Regions from separate parts of the Homo sapiens genome. Here region 1 is linked to region 2. Evidence: fine-mapped expression QTL. A gene starts in region 2. The other region holds a variant in brackets. All regions are shown on one strand. Distances are from middle to middle. Region 1 holds the start of LOC101929444 (a long non-coding RNA gene). Region 2 holds the start of COL16A1 (collagen type XVI alpha 1 chain).

Region 1 (8,382 bases), 30 kb after region 2:
TCAGGCTTGAACTATCACACTGGCCCTGGAGAGGGGAGCAAGGGATGAATAATGATTTAAGGCATAATAATTAACATGTTCGGGCCAGGCGTGGTGGCTCACGCCTGTAATCCCAGCACTTTGGGAGGCCAAGGTCGGCAGATCACTTGAGGTCAGGAGTTCGAGACCAGCCTGGCCAGCATGGCGAAACCCCGTCTCTACTAAAAATACAAAAAGAATTAACCGGGTTTTGTGGTGCATGCCTGTAATCCCAGCTACTCAGGAGGCTGAGGCAGGAGAATCGCTTGAACCCAGGAAGCGGAGGTTTCGATGAGCTGAGATTGCACCACTGCACTCCAGCCTGGGCGACAGAGTGATACATCTCAAAAATAATAATAATAATAATAAATAAAAAATAATAATTGACATGTTCAAGGCATTTTCCCTGTGCCAGGCACTGCTCTAAGCCCTGATGGTGCACAGAGGTGCCAGGGGGCCTGGATGGTGGCTGGCTCCGGGTCTGACCCAGGCCTGGTAGAGCCTGCCTGGAAATTGCTCGGGGGCTGGTGATATGTTCCATTGCTGGGAGCTGGGACTTGAAGGAAGGCCAGATCTCAGAGTGCGCCAAGGAAATCCTGTGCAGGGAGGAGCAGGCTGAGCAGCGGTGCATTCACTCAACACGTACTTACTGCACATCTCCTCCATGTTGGGTGCTGGGGATTCAAAATGGAACATACTCCCTGCCTCCATGGAGTATTTAATATGCAAATGTGCCTCACGAATCTGCAAGGGGAACATTGTCCGGGTGGCATGGATTTAATGTAAACATCGTTGCAGCCATTGTCTCCTTGAAGCCTCACCATAAACTATCCCTGTTTTATAGATAAGGCAACTGAGGCATAGAATTTTTTTCCCCCAAATAAATTGCCAAAAGTTATACAGGTAGTCAGAATTTTGTATCTAGATGAATCTGACTGGCAAGTACCCACCCTTGCTGTGTACATGAATGTTCTGGGGATGTCTGTTGAGGAATGATGCTAGAATTGTGGTTAAGAGAGGGGTTAGAAGCCAGTGATCCTTGCTCTGGACCTCAGCTCTGTGCCTTGCTCAACTTGTGACCTTTGGCAAGTTACTTACTCCTCTGGGTTCTTTTTTTTTTTTTTTTTTGAGACGGAGTCTCCCTCTGTTGCCTAGACTAAAGTGTAGTGGCGTAATCTTGGCTCACTGCAACCTCCATCTCCCAGGTTCAAGTGATTCTCCTGTCTCAGCCTCCCGTGTATCTGGGACCACAGGCACACACCACCATGCCCTGCTAACTTTTATATTTTTAGAAGAGACGGGGTTTCGCCATGTTGGCCAGGCTGGTCTCGAATTCCCGGCCTCAGGTGATCCGCCCACCTCGGCCTCCCAAAGTGCTACGATTGCAGGTGTGAGTGACCGTGCCCAGCCTCCTCTGGGTTCTTTGTGCTATTTTTAAGATGGAGATAACAGCACCTAGTTCAACAAGATAGCTGTGATGATTAAACGAGAAAATAGGCTGGGTGTGGTGGTTCACGCCTATAATTTCAACATTTTGAGAGGCTGAGCGGGGAGGATCACTTAAGCCCAGAAGTTTGAGACCAGCCTACCAGCGAGACCTGGTCTCTATAATAAACACAAAAGAATTAGCCAGGCATGGTGGTGAGCGCCTCTAGTCCCAGCTACTCAGGAGGCTGAGGTGGGAGAATCGCTTGAGCTGAGTTTGAGGCTACAGTGAGCTATAATTATGCCATTGCACTCCAGCCTGGGTGACAGAGTGAGACCCCGTCTCTACAAAGAAAAAAAGAAAAAAGAAAAGGAAAGGAAAAAGAAAGAGAGAAAATATAGAAAAACGACTTAGCACAGAAATAAACAGTAGTTCCATGGAAGACCCTCTGCTCAATTTCTGACCTTCCCTCTGATGTGGGGGGAAAACACTTGCTGTTGGACGGTTTGGGGGGTCGCTCTTCTGGGCCTCCCTGGCTTTCCCTATAAGGGTCGAGAGGCTTTTGAGCTAAGAATAGATGTCAGCCTTGTGCCAGCCAGGGCTCTCAGCTCTGCAGGACAAGGGGAAGAGGAGGCGGGGATGATGAGAAGGAAACAGGCTGACCAGCAGGCTAGAGAGATGGAGCCCACTCACTCGTGTCTCTTCTTGGCTACAGGGAGTGCCTGGAAACAACGGTTTGCCAGGACAGCCTGGGCTCACTGCAGAACTGGTGGGTACTGGCCAGGACTCCCTGTGCATGCCCCTTCCCTGCCCTTCCCAGGGCTGCTCAGGCTATGAAGCTGGCCCGGTAGCTGCAGTGGGGGTCCCTCTTCTCTCCCACTTCTGAGGCTGGAAGGTGCATGACGTGTCCCAAGGCTCTCCCTGATCCCATAAGTCTCCATGTTCCTTCCCCTCACCTGCTTGAGCCCACACATCTGTCTCTTGCAGGGATCCTTACCAATTGAACAGCACCTCCTTAAGGTAAGAGGGTACCCAGGAGGGAAGTGTGAGCTGGCGGGGGTGTCTCCTAAGGGGATTCTCTTAGTAAGTGCTCAGCTGTGTGGCACCTCGCAGAGAGAGCAGCAGTTTGCAGGGAATACGCATTCCAAGCATCTGTCTAAGAGGGCCTAGCTGATGCCTGGCTTGTAACAGGCCCCCAGGCAACATTTGCTGAATGAGTGCTTAAAGGAATCCTGTGAAGGTGCCCACATGGCAGATGCTGTCGGCAGAACCCAGCCCTGAAGCCTGCCCGCAGCAGCTGGCAATGAGACCCCGTAGCACCCGGGTCACCCTGCGGCAGAGCCCAGCAGCTTCCAAAGCAAAGCAGAGGGGGTGAAAGTGCAGTGGTGGGGGGCTGTGAGATTGGGTGTGGCCTGGAAGAAAGCTTCAGCTGTTCTCTAGTCAATCCAGAAAGAATCCAGGGAGGAGATGGATTTGAGAAGCACTTCTGGTAGTCTAAGAAAGGGGACTTCGGACCTGGTCAGAGGGTCGGCCTGTGCCAGGGCCTGTACACAGCCTTAATGCTCTACCAGAGGGCTGTGGCCTGGGCCGGCTTCCCAAACTGAGCAGAAGTTCCTATTGGAATCAAGAGTCACATAGCCCATCTTTGCTTAGTCACCTCTAGAAACGAGAGCACAGTAATTCCCCAGGTTGCCTTCAGGTTTTTGAAGGAGGCCCTTATGTTCCTGGACTTTCTCTCCTCTAGCCCAGCATCCTCAGGGGTCTTTCCCATGTGTTGGCCTCCAGAGCCCCCCCTCATCCTGGCCACCCTCTTCTGACACTGGCTAATTAGTGCCCTGGACATCCCATGACCCCGATGGGCCTTGGTCAGGGCAGAGCATGGGGGCTGTCTACCCCTTCCCTGCTCTGAACGGCAGATTTCTCCAGAAGCAGCCAGAGGAGGTCGGGGTAACCTCTTGGCATCAGTTACATGTTGGATCACAGTGAGGTTGTGGCAACGAAACCCCCAGCTCTTCTCCCCTCTGCTTCTGTCAATGACTGGGCAGTGATCGTGTGACTCCAAATCCAGGATTTGACATTTCTCCTGTAACATTTCATCTGTTGGCTTCTTCATCAAGTGCTCTTCAGAGGATTCCAAATAGAAAGTGCGCATAGTGTGGAGAAGGGGTCAGATGGCACCCCGGGGCATGCTGACCCAGAGCCCCAGCCACCACCTGCACCCATAGTCCAGGAAGCCTGGGGAGAGAGCACTGGCTGTGGCCTAGGACAGGCCCACGCCAATCCAGGCTCCCACTTTCCTTAGACAAGTCACGCCGCCTCTCTTGAGTGGGCTTTCCCATCTCCACAATGCTTATAAGATTCCCTGTCTCACTGCGCCGTCAAGATGGCATGTGATAATGTGCAGGGCTTATTATGTACAATGCCCAGCGTCATGGGTGCTGAGTAAATGCCAGTCGTTATTACTGGGCTTGGTGGTGAGCAGTGAAAGTGAGCAGGGGCTCCTGCCTGGGCATCTGTGGACACGACACTGGCCACAAACAGGCTCCGGGCTCCTGAGTCCTCAGAAATTGCAGGCTGGTTTTCACTAGTGGGTTTGATTTTTCTGAGAAAAGGACCCATAGCTTCCATCAAACTCTCAGAGGGGTCTGTGACCCAAAGAAGGTTAAAGCCCTTCCTGTGGGGAAGACAATTCTGGTGGCGCGATCCGAGCCAGGAGCCTGTGAGCAATCTGAGATCTGTCCCAGGGGCTCCTGGGAAGGGCCTGGCTCCTCCCGCAGCTGTTCCTTTGCTCCCTTGGGCAGAGAAGCTGGCGTTCGGAGCCAGCCTTTCCAGCCTCACTCCTCGTGGCTTGTCCTCGCAGTGGGTGCAGGTTGCAGGAACAGCCGGGACAGATGGTCCCTCTGCGGGCCCCTCGCCTCCACCCACATGCCTGTC[T/C]GGAAAGTGGCTTTGGCTTAGCTGTACCAGAGCTTCTTCCTGGAGGAAACTCAAAGCCAATTGTTGGGAGTGGGTCCCCCGAGGATGGAGCAAAGCTGCCGCAGGGATGCGGCTGGGGAGGGAGGGAGTGTGGGAGGAGGGAAGACGGCAGGGCAGGGAGCCCTGGCTCTGGGTTCTCACTGGGGCTCCCCAGTTGGCCCATCCTGCCCATCTCTAACCCAGGCCCCACTCCTCTCCCCACTCCCTGATCAGAGTATCTGCGGGGACTGTGTCCAGGGGCAGAGGGCCCACCCAGGGTACCTCGTGGAGAAGGGAGAGAAGGGAGACCAGGGCATCCCTGGTGTGCCAGGCCTCGACAACTGCGCCCAGGTAAGGGACTGGGCTTGGGGCTGCCCTATGCAGGAGGGTTCCCTGGCTGCCTCATCAGACAATGTGCCTCTCATTGTCCCTTGCAGTGCTTTTTGTCACTGGAGCGCCCAAGAGCCGAGGAGGCCCGGGTGAGTGCCTCGCCTTATCTCCCCCGATCATGCCCCATGCCCCACAGGGACAGGCCCTGACTGCTCACTATCACCGTCTCCATCCTTCTCCAGGGTGACAACAGTGAGGGAGATCCTGGCTGTGTTGGGAGCCCAGGCCTACCTGGTCCTCCGGGATTGCCAGGCCAGAGAGGAGAAGAGGTAAGACCAGGGATGGGGATTCATCCTCAAGGGAGCTGGGGCCCTGTCTGCCTTTGAGACCTCTTGGGGGCCTCCGAGGCCTCACCTGACTGATGCCCTTTACCACTCTGGGCTCATCTGCTCTCCTGGCACGTGGCTTCTCTGGGATACACAGGACCCAGCGTAGGACACACTCTTTCTCCCCAGTGCCCAGCTGCATCCTCTGCCTGCAACGCTCTTCTCCAGGGCTTATTCCTGCACTCCTTCAGCTCGGCTCAAATGTCTCCTTCTCAGAGAGACCTCCCCTGACCACCCTCTTTAAAATTGAACTCCACACCAACCCCAGAGCCTCCAGTCCCCTTGGCCTGCATCATACTCATCACCATCCAACATCCTGCCTATTTACTTCATTCAGGAACATTCTACAGGTGTCAGCTCAACACCAACTATGTGCCAGCTCCTGTTCTATTTGTTAGTGTCCGTCTCTCCCCTAGAATGTAACTGCTTTGAGGCAGGGGTTTTTATTTATTTTGTTTATGCTGTGATCCTAGCCCCTGGACTAATGCCTGGTACGTAATAGTTGCTTGTTAAATGTTTGTAGGATGACCGAATGGGCCAAATGAAAGATTGTTCGAACATCAGCTAAGTGGTCCTGCTTGGACAGCAGCCACCCTCTGTTGACCTTGGCCCTGGCAAGCTGGGAGGAAGGCTGCTGGAATCCCAGGGGCTCTATGGGGCCTGGGCCTCTTCATCCATTTCCCTTGGCTTCCTTTGCAGGGTCCGCCTGGCATGAGGGGCTCCCCGGGTCCTCCAGGCCCTATCGTAAGTATCAGTGGTGCCCTGGTCTGCTTGAGAAGCTCTCAAAGGGGTCATTACACTCAGACACCATCCCGCGGCCTTGTCCCCAAAAGGCTGGGCAAGGCAGGAGGAGGGAACTTCCACTGCCCTCCCCATCCCTCCGCAGAGCATCTGCAGGGACTGTGCTCTCCCACCACCGGATGCCCTGGAACCGCCCTGCTCTGCCTACTGCCTGCGGTCCTGCTTAGGGGAGGTCCTCAGAGGCACCTCTTTGCTTCCCTGTCCCCACCCTCTGCTGCGCTTTCCACAGTGGCCCCAGGCCGCCCTCGGCAGGGGGCCTAGGCTTCAGGCTCACAGCCTCCCAACCAGGGAAGCATGCGGCATGCTGGCCAGACCTCTCCATGCCCCTGTGACTCCAGTCCCCACAAGGGCTCGGGGCTAAGATGGAGCTGTCCTCCATTGCTCTGTAGGGCCATCTCTAGGGTAAATCTACAAAAACCAGACCAGGGTATCTACTCTGGAGTCCTCTGTGATGTTGACATGGCAGGAAAATAGAAGTGACTAGGAAAGATTGAAAGAACTGAAAATGCTTTCTCTGGAGAAGAAAATGGCTGGTGGGAGCTGTCTTAGAGCCAGGGAGCCCCCCACTCGGGGGACAGGTGGAGGTCGGGTGGCAGGCATGGTGGGCAAGGCTGAAAGAAATGGGCTTCTGCTGCAACCGGATCTTCAGTTAGACTCCGGAAGACTCAGGAAGCCCTCTGACTCTGGAGCCATTCCGCATCTCCGTCAACGGAGGAGCCATTCTTCCTGGAGCCAAGGGGAGGAACAGTTGTCTTTTGAGCCAAGACTTTCAAGGAGTCTCTTTTCCAGCTGCCTTGAAAATACTCCCATGACCTCCTCTCCCCATGACCCCCAAGCCCCAGACTGTGCCCTCCAGGCTGTCCCAGGGTTACTGTGCCTGTGAGATGTGACCTGCCTGTTTCTCCCACCAGGGCCCCCCAGGTTTTCCTGGTGCTGTTGGCTCCCCCGGATTGCCTGTAAGAACCTAGCGCTGCTCGACCTCCCCTCCCCCCCGTCAGCCAGGTCTCTGTGGCTTTTGCTTGTCTCCCTCCTGTCGTGCCTTCACCTCCGTCCTCCGTGTTTGTTGTCCCCCTTCAGGCACGGTAGCTAACGACACGGGTTCTCTGAGGTCCCGGCAGCTTGGACATCCTCCCAGTCTCTGACTCCTTTCCGTTTTCTCCTCTCCCTCCTCTCCTGCGTTCTTTCTCTCCTCTTCTCTCTCTTACCCCGTTCTGTCTTCCTTCTCCATTTCTCGCACCATCTTGCAGCACTCCCCCAAGTCCTCCTGAGCTCGTGAACCTTCCTCTTAAGCTGGTGCCTCTAGGGGGCCCCTCCATTCCTGCCTTCTCGCTCTGCCTCCTGCTTCTCACCACCTTCGGCGTTGCCTGAAGATTTGCTGAAAGTAGTTCTTGGGGCCCTGCCAGGCACCTGGCTCAGAGCCCAGCAGAGATGCCAAAGCTTTAGGGCTTCACATTGCAGGCTGGCACAGGTTTGCTGCCCTGCTGCTTGGCAGGGCTGTCCAGAGGCACCCAGGGATTTAAAGGCAGCCCTTCCTGCGCCTTTTCCGTCGTCCTAGAGGAAACTCTCAGCTGCCTCCTCTTCGCTTCCTCTTCCTTGGCTCCAGTCCCAGTCTGCTCCAAGGCGGGGCATGTGATATCAGCCAGTTGGGTTTCTGGGTGTCGTGCGGCCCTGCCCCTCTGTGCCCGGCACCTTGGCCGGCTCCTTCTGCCAGGTGTCGTTAATTGCTCTGCCTTCGTCATCGTCACAGGTGTGTTTACATCACCCCCAGCCTCATTGTTGCTCCCTCCTGGGTCACGGAAACTAACCTCCTGTTTGTCAGGTTTTGTGTTCCTGGGGCCTGGCTCCTCTCCTCCCAGGCCTGGTGATGGAGGCTCAGGGAGCAGGGCCCCTCCTCGTCACAGTTCCATCTGTCCCCACGTCCTCATCTGTGGCCGGGCCTTGTCTGTTTCTGCTTGCTTGGGTGAAGGGGCCATCTGTCCGTCTAGCCATCTGTCTTATGTCATGGAAAGGTTTGGGCGTCATCTCTTGAGGGGATGAGGGAGAAGGGGGCAGGAAAGGTGCCCTTAATGGCATGGCACCTGCAAAGGCTGGGGTAAGGAATTAGGGGTGGGGGCTGTAGCTCTCGTGGAAAGTGACATGCCCTCTCACCCTACAAAGTGACAGGGACTGCTCTGGAGGCAGCCTTCCTGTGTCTCTCCCCTGCCTCCCTCCAAGAAAGTGATTTTTGCTTGGGGTGGGGGACTTGGACAGGTAAGTGTTGGGTATCTGATGATATGATACACTTTGGTGGCAGCATCCATCTGGGGTACCTCTCCTGACAGTTGCCCCTCAGAATAAGCACACATCTGATCCATCACCTTCCTAAAGGTGTACGCCAGTCAGTTACCATGGCAGGGCATACCAGCGACGGGCACCTGAGAGATACCCTCCCAGAGTCACCTCTGCTGGAGGGCATATCTCTATAGTTAT
Region 2 (8,232 bases):
AAAAAAGAAAGAAAGAAAAAGAGAGAAAGAAAGAAAGAAAGAAAAGAAAAGAAAAGAAAAGAAAAGAAAAGAAAAGAAAAGAAAAGAAAAGGTATTACTGGCTGCCAGGTGGGAAGAAAGAAAGAAAAGAAAAAAGAAAAGAAAAGAAAAGGTCTTACTGGCCACCAGGTGGGAAGTAAGTGGGTGGTGGGGCCCCAAGGCAGCAGGCAGATCAGCTGGGGGCTCTTGCAACAGCCCAGCAGAAGATGATCATGGTCTGGGTGAGGGTTGCAGCTGTGGAGGTGGGGAGGAGTGGATGGACGTGGGCTGTATTTGGGGGGTAGAACTGACAGGATTGGATGGGGGTGGTAGGGAAAAGAAAGGAGCCAAGGTTTTCAGGTTTTTACCTGAGCATCAGAATGAATTATCGTGGCATTTAAAGGGATGAGGAAGTCAGGAAGGGCATATCTGTGAAGAGTAATCAATCATGTGTGATGTGTCTGCGTGTGAGCCCGTATGCGCATATGCCAGGGCCCAGGTGTGCACGTGTACATGTGGGGGTTCTGGTCCACTGTTCAAGCCTCAGAACTTTACACCATCTCTGCTTGAACGCGTGGGGGCTCCCGGACCTGTCCTGGGACCAGGCCCTGGGTTGGCTCTTCAACCTGCCCCAGCCCCAGGGGCTGCCCCTGCCAGACAGGGATTCCCCAGTGGGGGGCGGAGGGCCCTTGGGCACTGCCAACATCTGGGCATACTACCCCAGGTCCAGAAGGCCTTGGTAGCCCCATGCAGCAGCAGCATGCAGGCTCCAGGGCAGCTGGTGGTGATTAGCAGCATTGATTACCTCGTGGTGATGCCATCTGGGGTGAGGGCGCTGAGCCCAGCCTCACGGGATACCCGGGTTGCTGGCGTGCAGGGCTTTCTGGCACTGACTGCATGTAAAAGTGTCAGCACAGCTGCATGTATGCATGTGTGTACATGTGTCAGTGTGTGCATGTCCCAGTGGCTGTTTCTCTGGGAGCCGAGTCTGTGTGGCCATCTATGTCTGTGTGCACACATGTATGTGCTGCAGGTCTGCAGGCTTCTCTGCTTGCATATCTGAGTAATTATGCCTGTGGTCACATGTATGTTTATGTGCACACATGTCTATGTGTACAGGCATGTGTCTGTGTGTGCACATTCGAGTATATACAGTGCTGTATGCAGGCATTCTGAGAATTATGTACCTGTGTTTGGATATGTCCAGGGATATATTTCTGTGGGGTAATCTGGGCTCTTACATGTGTTTCTGTGTATCTTTGATGTGGAGGCGTATCTTGAGTCTCTACACATCTGTGTGTAACTGTTTCTAGGGCCAGGGTGTGTCTGTGTGAACATGAGTGCCTATACATGCATATGGAGTCTGCGTACTCAAGTGCTGTGCTAGAACTTTACCTGACTGCGTGTTTCTGGATGTGTGCACGTATGTGTGGAAGGGAGGAAGGGGCATGGGCACATTCCTAGACTGTCTATGATAGTGTTTCTAGGCGTAAGGTGTGTCCCAGGCTTGGCTGTTCCTGTGAGCACCCTTGGGGTGCTGTGGGAAGGCATCTGGCTCTCCCTTCTCAGGTTCCTCCATCCCTGGCCCAGCCACCTGCCCTGTCTGGGGCACGGGTGGGAGCTGTCAGGATGGCATGGTGGTTAAGAGCACGTGCTGAGTCTAGGCTGGCTGGACATGAGTTCTGCTCCACCACTGACTAGCTGTGGGATCCCGGGCAAGTTGTGTTTTTCCTGTGCTGCAGGTTTGGGAATAAAAATGGAATTCTGCCTTAAGGCGTTGTTGTAAAGATCGAAGGAGTTAGCATATGTGAAGTTCTCAGCACAGAGCCTGACCTATATGCGCTTCCCACCTCTCCCGAGTGCCCACTGCTGGGGCAGCACCCTCTGGTAGGGCAGGCGGGGCCTGTGCCCACCCACCCCGCAGGCCAGAGTGCTCAGAAGGCCCCACCCCCTCCGCTTCCCGCCTGCTGAGCTCAGCACTTCCCAGGCCCCACCACTGCCACAGCCACATCTGGGGCCAGCTCCTCACTGGGACCACAGTGGGGCGCCTCTGTGGCGTGGTTGGGGTTTCCGCTGACTCAGCGCCTCTGGGTCTGGAGGCGGGAAATCCCAGGCCTGCCCCTACAACCTCCCCCTACCCCGGGTTAGCCGAGGCCACAGGGCTAGGCGCGTTGCTTCCACAGAGCCCCCAGAGCCCCCCTCAACTGGGGACGCTCAGTTTCTCCCTCTTCAGCCCAGCATCTCATGGCCTCTTGAACCTACTTTGTGGATCCTCAGCCTTGGTGCCAATAAATTTGCTTTCGGTCTACAGCGGGAGGAGACCCTTGGTGGGGATTCCACCTTGGTCAACGGCCCTGCCTCTGGGCAGAACTCGGAACATTACCGGCTCCTTCCTCCTCAGAGCTCCAATCTTTCAGCCCAGCTCAATTCCTCTTGCGTCCTTGGACCGTGAATATAAAGCAGGTCCCTCCCCAGTGCTGGTGTAAAGGCTTGAAATCCAGTCCCGTCCCCTGCCAGGGATCACAGTAATAACGATAATAGCAGCAAATATTTACTGAGCTCCTCTCATGTGCCAGACCGTGTGCTAAGCGCTTACAGCCTTTGGCCCATTTCCTGCTTACAGCAAAGGTCTATGAGGCATATACTCTCACGATCCCATCTTCCAGATGAGAAAACGGAGTATGGTTACACAGCACATTTGGAACCGCAAAGCCAGAGCAGGGGCCAGGGATTTGAGCCCTTCCAACCTCATGGAGTAAGGAGGAATAAGGGGACTCCCTCAGTCTCACTTCTCTGGGAGTCAGGCCAGAGCAGAGGGGGTTAATTTAGCACGGAGGAGGGAGGGGGTTCCCACCCTCCTCCTCCCAGTACAGACAGACCTAGGGACAGACTGACTGGGAATGTTAGGCAGAGGAATTGGAAAAAGCTGACCACCGAGGCTTGGGCGGCAGCCACATCATGGGTGCCACGCACTTGGGAGGAGGGTCTCTACCCTGCTCCCTCCACCCCTGTCCCCTCCCCGCCCCCCCACCCCGCAGCCTTCTGGGGGCCCAGCCAGGGACATGGAAAGGGGGAGCTCTTCAAACTCCAGGCCTGACTCTTAAAGGGCCCGCAGGAGCCCCCTTCCAGGGCAGCTCTGGGCACGTAGGGTCCCGCCTAGCTCGAGGATCGCTCACCTGGCGGTGAGGCAGGAGGGGCGGGCCTGGGAGCTCGGCCAGACCCGGGGCGGGGCTGTGCACCCCGCAGTCTAGCCGCCTCTGGTGCCGCTGGAGCCCCCTCTAGGCCCTCCTCCTCCTCCTCCCTGGCGGGCCGGTCCAGCTGTGTTCCATTAGTGTCCCTGGCAGGCCCCCAGCCCCCTGGAACCGCCTCTCTTCCCCCACCCGGAGTGGCCGGCAGTCCCCGGCAGGCGTGCGCCGGGCAGCAGACAGCCGGGAGAGCTCGAGCGCCAGGAAGCTGGGGACCCGTGACCGTCACGGAGAGATAGAGAACCCCTAGCGGACCTGAGGAACCTGGGCTCTGCTTCCTCCGCCTGCTGCCTGGACTGCTCAGTGAGGTGGGGGGATCCCCGGCCACCGGTAAGTAGGGATACAGTGGGCGGCCTCAGGGCTCTGGGCTGAGAGGCCCTTTCTGCCAGACTTGCTGTGTGACCTGAGGAAAGTGGCATTCCCTCTCTGGGCCTTGGTCGTCTTCTCTAGAGCGAGATGAGCTCTAAACTCCATCCTGGTTCTGACTCCCTGCGCCCAAATCTATGCCTCTGTGTTGGGGTGAGCCGTCTCCTTGGAAGCTTCTCTGGCTCTGTCCTTGCAGCCCTGCACTCTGGCTGGAGCCTGAGGAGTGGCGACCAGAGACTAGGAGCCGGAAGGGGACAGGATCACATCCATCCTCACGCCTCCACATGCACCCACATGGCGCCACAGCTGGCAGCCCTTCTATTGGCTGGCAGGAGGAAGACCAGGATAGGGTTTGAGAGCTGGGATGTGTATATCACTAGGATGGGGGATGAATAGGCAGGCTGGGGGCACAGTTCTGTCCCAGGGAGAAGGGGGCTGGAGTCCTATCTCCAAATATATTGGGGTAAGGGGTCCTTTCTGTTTTCATTTCCTATCCATGATTGAGGGAAGGAAAATTGGATTTCATTAGAGTTGGAAGGAATGCAGTCAGACTTGCATTAGAACTTCCCAACAGGAAGACCTACAGGAGGAGTGGTCATAGGCTGGCTGTGCGCATGTGGGTATATGCAAGCTGGTGTGTCTGGGTATATCAGCGAGCATATGTTTCCGTGAGCATGCCTGTGTGCAGATAGCTTTGTATGCACACTGGTACCACATATGTGTCCTTATGTACATGTACCTGCGCATCTGCATGTGCTGTGCTGACACATGCATGGCTCTGTGTTTGTGCACGTGAGCTGCCTGTCCTGGGGGAGGCCAGACGATGTATGGCTCTGCTGGCCACTTGCTGAGCCTGCATCGATTTATCTGGGCCCATCCATCAGGGTTTAATAAAACTAAAAGACAAGCATCCATCAGCTGGGGGCGGGGGTGGCTGGCAATGAGGTCCTGAGCCCTAGAGACCTGCTCTCCTGCCCACTATACCTATGGGGAAAGCTTCCTTGGCCCCCACACAGCCCTATGGAAGGCTGTGGCCCACAATCTCAGCCCAGTCACCAGCCCCTGACCCTGTGGGTGCCTGGGAGGGCTTCCTGGGCTGAGCTGGGTGCGCTAGTAAGGTATCAGGCTGGTATATATACCAGGACAGTGCACAAGATGCTAGACTTGAAATACTTCCACGTGTCTTGAAGAATAGCCTCTTCTTTAAGCCCTCATCACTATTCCAACTTCTCTGGCCTTCTAAGACCTTCTAGACCTCTCCCAATCCAGCAAGTATCCACTGGCACAGCCAGATGCTGCCTGGACACTATTTCAGTGCAGTAGGCAGCTTTCTGCTTTGCCTGAAAGCTGGTATCCGTGCCATACCGGTGGTTAAATATTTTGAATATCGCCTCTGCTCAAATCCTAGCCCAAGGGCTGTGGTTGGGCCTCTGAGAGAGACTGATGCCTGGCCAGACCTCCTGCCACCCCAATACCAGTGCCTGGGCCCCACAGGCTGTCCACGACTTGCCCACGTGTGGAGTTGTGCTGTGTGAACTCAGAAATCCGCCTTCCCGGTCTCTGTGGTTTTCAGGTGCTGTGGCTGTAGCTGACCTCTTTGGACCGGGATGTGGGTATCCTGGGCTCCTGGCCTGTGGCTGCTCGGTCTTTGGGCTACCTTCGGCCATGGGGCAAATACAGGTGAGATGACACAGGAGAGTCACAGTATCACAGGCCTGCAACTGGTATCCTGGGGTGCTGGGGTCCTTGCACATATGTGACCATGTATGTGTGGTCGTGTGGGCAGTTATAGCAGAGTCTAGGGGCTGGGCTCAGGGTGATCTGAGGTGTTGGCACCCTTGAGCCTGTGTGCAGTGAGCTGGAGAGTGTGTGTGCCTGTGTCTTCGTACGTTTATGTCTCTGAGCATCTCTGTGTTTGTCTCTCAGACTGGCTTTGTGCATTCGTATGTATTCCTGTGTCTCTGTGTGTAAGAGAACAACCTCCCACCCCAATACGTAAGCCAATCCTGTGGACACATTGCTGGTAGGACCAGTGGGGTGGGGAGGAACAGGCAGTGAGCTCTCCCTGCAGAAGGACGCCGCCTCCCCAGAGAACCCCAAGTCCTGCTGATCCTTTTCATGGTGGAGACTCCATCCCTCTAGCTCACGTGCTTCTCCTCCTCCACGGCTGGCCCTGAATCTCTAATAAAAGGCCCACCCCGAGGCCCAGACTCTGGATGAGACAGAGGGTGCAGCTTTCCAGGGCCCAAAGCCAGGGGAAGTTGACCGGGCAACTTGCCTGGCCTTGCTGGGTGCCCTCTGGGCTCAGTAGCTCAGCTGCTTCGCCAAGCAGGAACAGAACTCCTAGGACCCAAACCCAGCTAGGAAAAGCAGAAAAACCAAGAAGCTGAGGTGAAAGGGATTGTGGACCCAGGGTGAGTGTGGCCGCCTGCCCCTTGTATGTGCACATATGTGTTTCTGCTTGTGTGTGCGTGAGCTTTGCTCTCCTCTCCCTCACTGGGTCCCCTGGGGGGGATGGGGCAGATAATTTCAACATCTGTAAGGAATCTGGGCCCATTGCCAAGGGGTGAGTCACCCATTGCTGCTGTGATGCTGAAGACAGTGATGGTCTTTCTGACCAGACCTGGGGGAGGGAGAGTGCAGTGGGGTCATTGGCACCGGGCCCCAGGGCCCCAGGATTCCTTCTTCCAGCCAGTCTAGCCAGAGAGTGCAAGGCCAGCTTCTAGGAGCTGTCTTCACCGTCTTCTCCCACCTATCCCTCTGCATTGATGAGAAGGCCTTTTTGATTCTGGCCTCTGTCTTTCCTGTTGTAGCACCTCCCCCAACACTTCTGCTCAGTCAGCCCCAGGGCGAGGGAGGCCCATGGCTGCCCACCTGTTCTTTCAGGGCTTTGGAAACCTGAGTTAAGCTATCTCCTTCTCTGGGAGCCCTAACCCATTAATATGCCCTTCCTGGAGCTCCAAGGCCCTGGTGGTACCCTTGAGCTTGTGGTCCCCTCAGACCCTCAGTCTCTTCTCGCTGTTTCACAAGGTGGTTATTCAGGTAAATATTCATTCTGTTGGCTCCTACTTGTGTCTGGCCTGCTTGTCTGATTTGGATGTAGGACGTTCCTATTGCTGAGAACACGTGTGCCAGCTGCACATGTCATCCCTCGTGGCATGGGCACCTACAACTCCCACATGTACAGACACGTACATATAATTGTACATAACACACAATGTGCATGATTCTGACATTTCCTTACCCCTGAAGAGCTCCTCTGCCCCCCACCTGGGTGTATGTCATGGAGGGGGCACATGTGTAAATACACAGCTCCCCACTCCATCTGTGCTCGAGAGCCACCTAGAGCTTCGTGTATTCTCTCCCTTGCTGGCCTAGCTCCTGACTTGGAGTGCTGGGAGATTTGGGTTCCTGGAGTTCTGGGCCTGCTCTGCTGTTGGCTCACTTAGTGACCTTGGCCTGGGCCTCAGTCTCTGGACCTCAGTCTTCCAAACTGTATGCTGGGTTGGGGGCCTCCAGGCTTCCTGGGGAGCCAGGGTCAGAAGGCAGGTGGTGAAGGCAGGATCTAGCTGATGGTCCAGAGTGAGGACTATAAACTTGCTCCCTCCCAGGTTCCCCAGGCGTCCAGCCGTGCAGCAACCTTGGCCTGAGCGCACCTAATGCCCCCCTGCCCCTTCTCTTCTAGGTGCACAATGCCCACCTTCACAGCAGGAAGGACTCAAATTGGAACACAGTAGTAGCCTGCCAGCCAACGTGACTGGTGAGCACCCAACCATCTCATCGCGCCGTCCCTGCAACCTTCCTCTGGGAGTGATCTGTACCCCTCTCCACCTGCTCAGCTGAGCTCTTCACCTGATGTCTCCCCCAAAGGCTTCAACCTCATCCACCGACTCAGCCTCATGAAGACGTCTGCCATCAAGAAGATCCGCAACCCCAAGGGGCCTCTCATCCTGCGCCTGGGGGCGGCCCCCGTGACCCAGCCCACGCGGTAAATGCATCCATGTGACCACTGAGAATCAACACTGACCTCAGCCACACTCCTCAGCAACTCCAGATGTGGGGCTTAAGCCCAGGGGCCTGTCTGTGGGTCATTGCATCCCAGCCCCTGCCAGGAGTCAACCTGGTCTCCACCCCTGGGCTTGCAGGGTGGGCTGAGAGGTGGTACCTGGCAGACCTACCTTCTGTCTTTCCCCTGTCTCTGGCCAGCAGTGGGTGGGAACAGGTCTGCATCCTGTGGGCACTGTGAGAACACAGGATGTGGGCGGGAACCTGGCAAGAGTCATGTGCGTGTGTGCATGTGTGTGTGTGCGCACATGCGTGTGTGTGCACCCATGTGTGTGAAGTCCAAATTCCCACAAGCCCTGGCCTGGCCCCTGCTTGCCTCTTCAACCTCAGCTCTCAAAATGCTCTTTTTTATCTCTTGCTGCTCTGGTCATGCTGAACCCTTTCCATCTTTTTTTCAGTATCTCTCCTTCCACCCTTGCTCCAGTTATTCACCTAGGGTATTCTGGGTTCATTGGAAGCACTTATTCAAATTGCAATGCGATAGCGAAATAGTCATTCTGGGGATTCTTTGCTCATGGCCTCCCTGCCCCCATCAGAC

What was found.
Region 1: its variant is fine-mapped to the expression of COL16A1 in cerebellar hemisphere (GTEx, PIP above 0.99). The same link has a PIP of 0.9 or more in cerebellum.

Annotation. Positions count from the first base shown.
Region 1 is chr1:31,669,089-31,677,470 of GRCh38, reverse strand. It overlaps COL16A1 (collagen type XVI alpha 1 chain), which reads left to right. Exons shown (of 71, transcript NM_001856.4): 43 at 2,160-2,213; 44 at 2,432-2,464; 45 at 4,631-4,747; 46 at 4,834-4,875; 47 at 4,969-5,055; 48 at 5,812-5,856; 49 at 6,825-6,869. It overlaps LOC101929444 (a long non-coding RNA gene), which reads right to left and starts at 7,667. Exons shown (of 2, transcript XR_001737631.2): 1 at 7,119-7,667; 2 at 6,404-6,639. The variant T/C (reference allele first, on the strand shown) is at 4,379.
Region 2 is chr1:31,699,198-31,707,429 of GRCh38, reverse strand. COL16A1 (collagen type XVI alpha 1 chain) reads left to right here and starts at 3,413. Exons shown (of 71, transcript NM_001856.4): 1 at 3,413-3,593; 2 at 5,203-5,309; 3 at 7,315-7,389; 4 at 7,500-7,617. The coding sequence starts at 5,237. RefSeq lists a silencer at 1,943-1,992 and enhancers at 5,302-6,054, 7,561-8,232.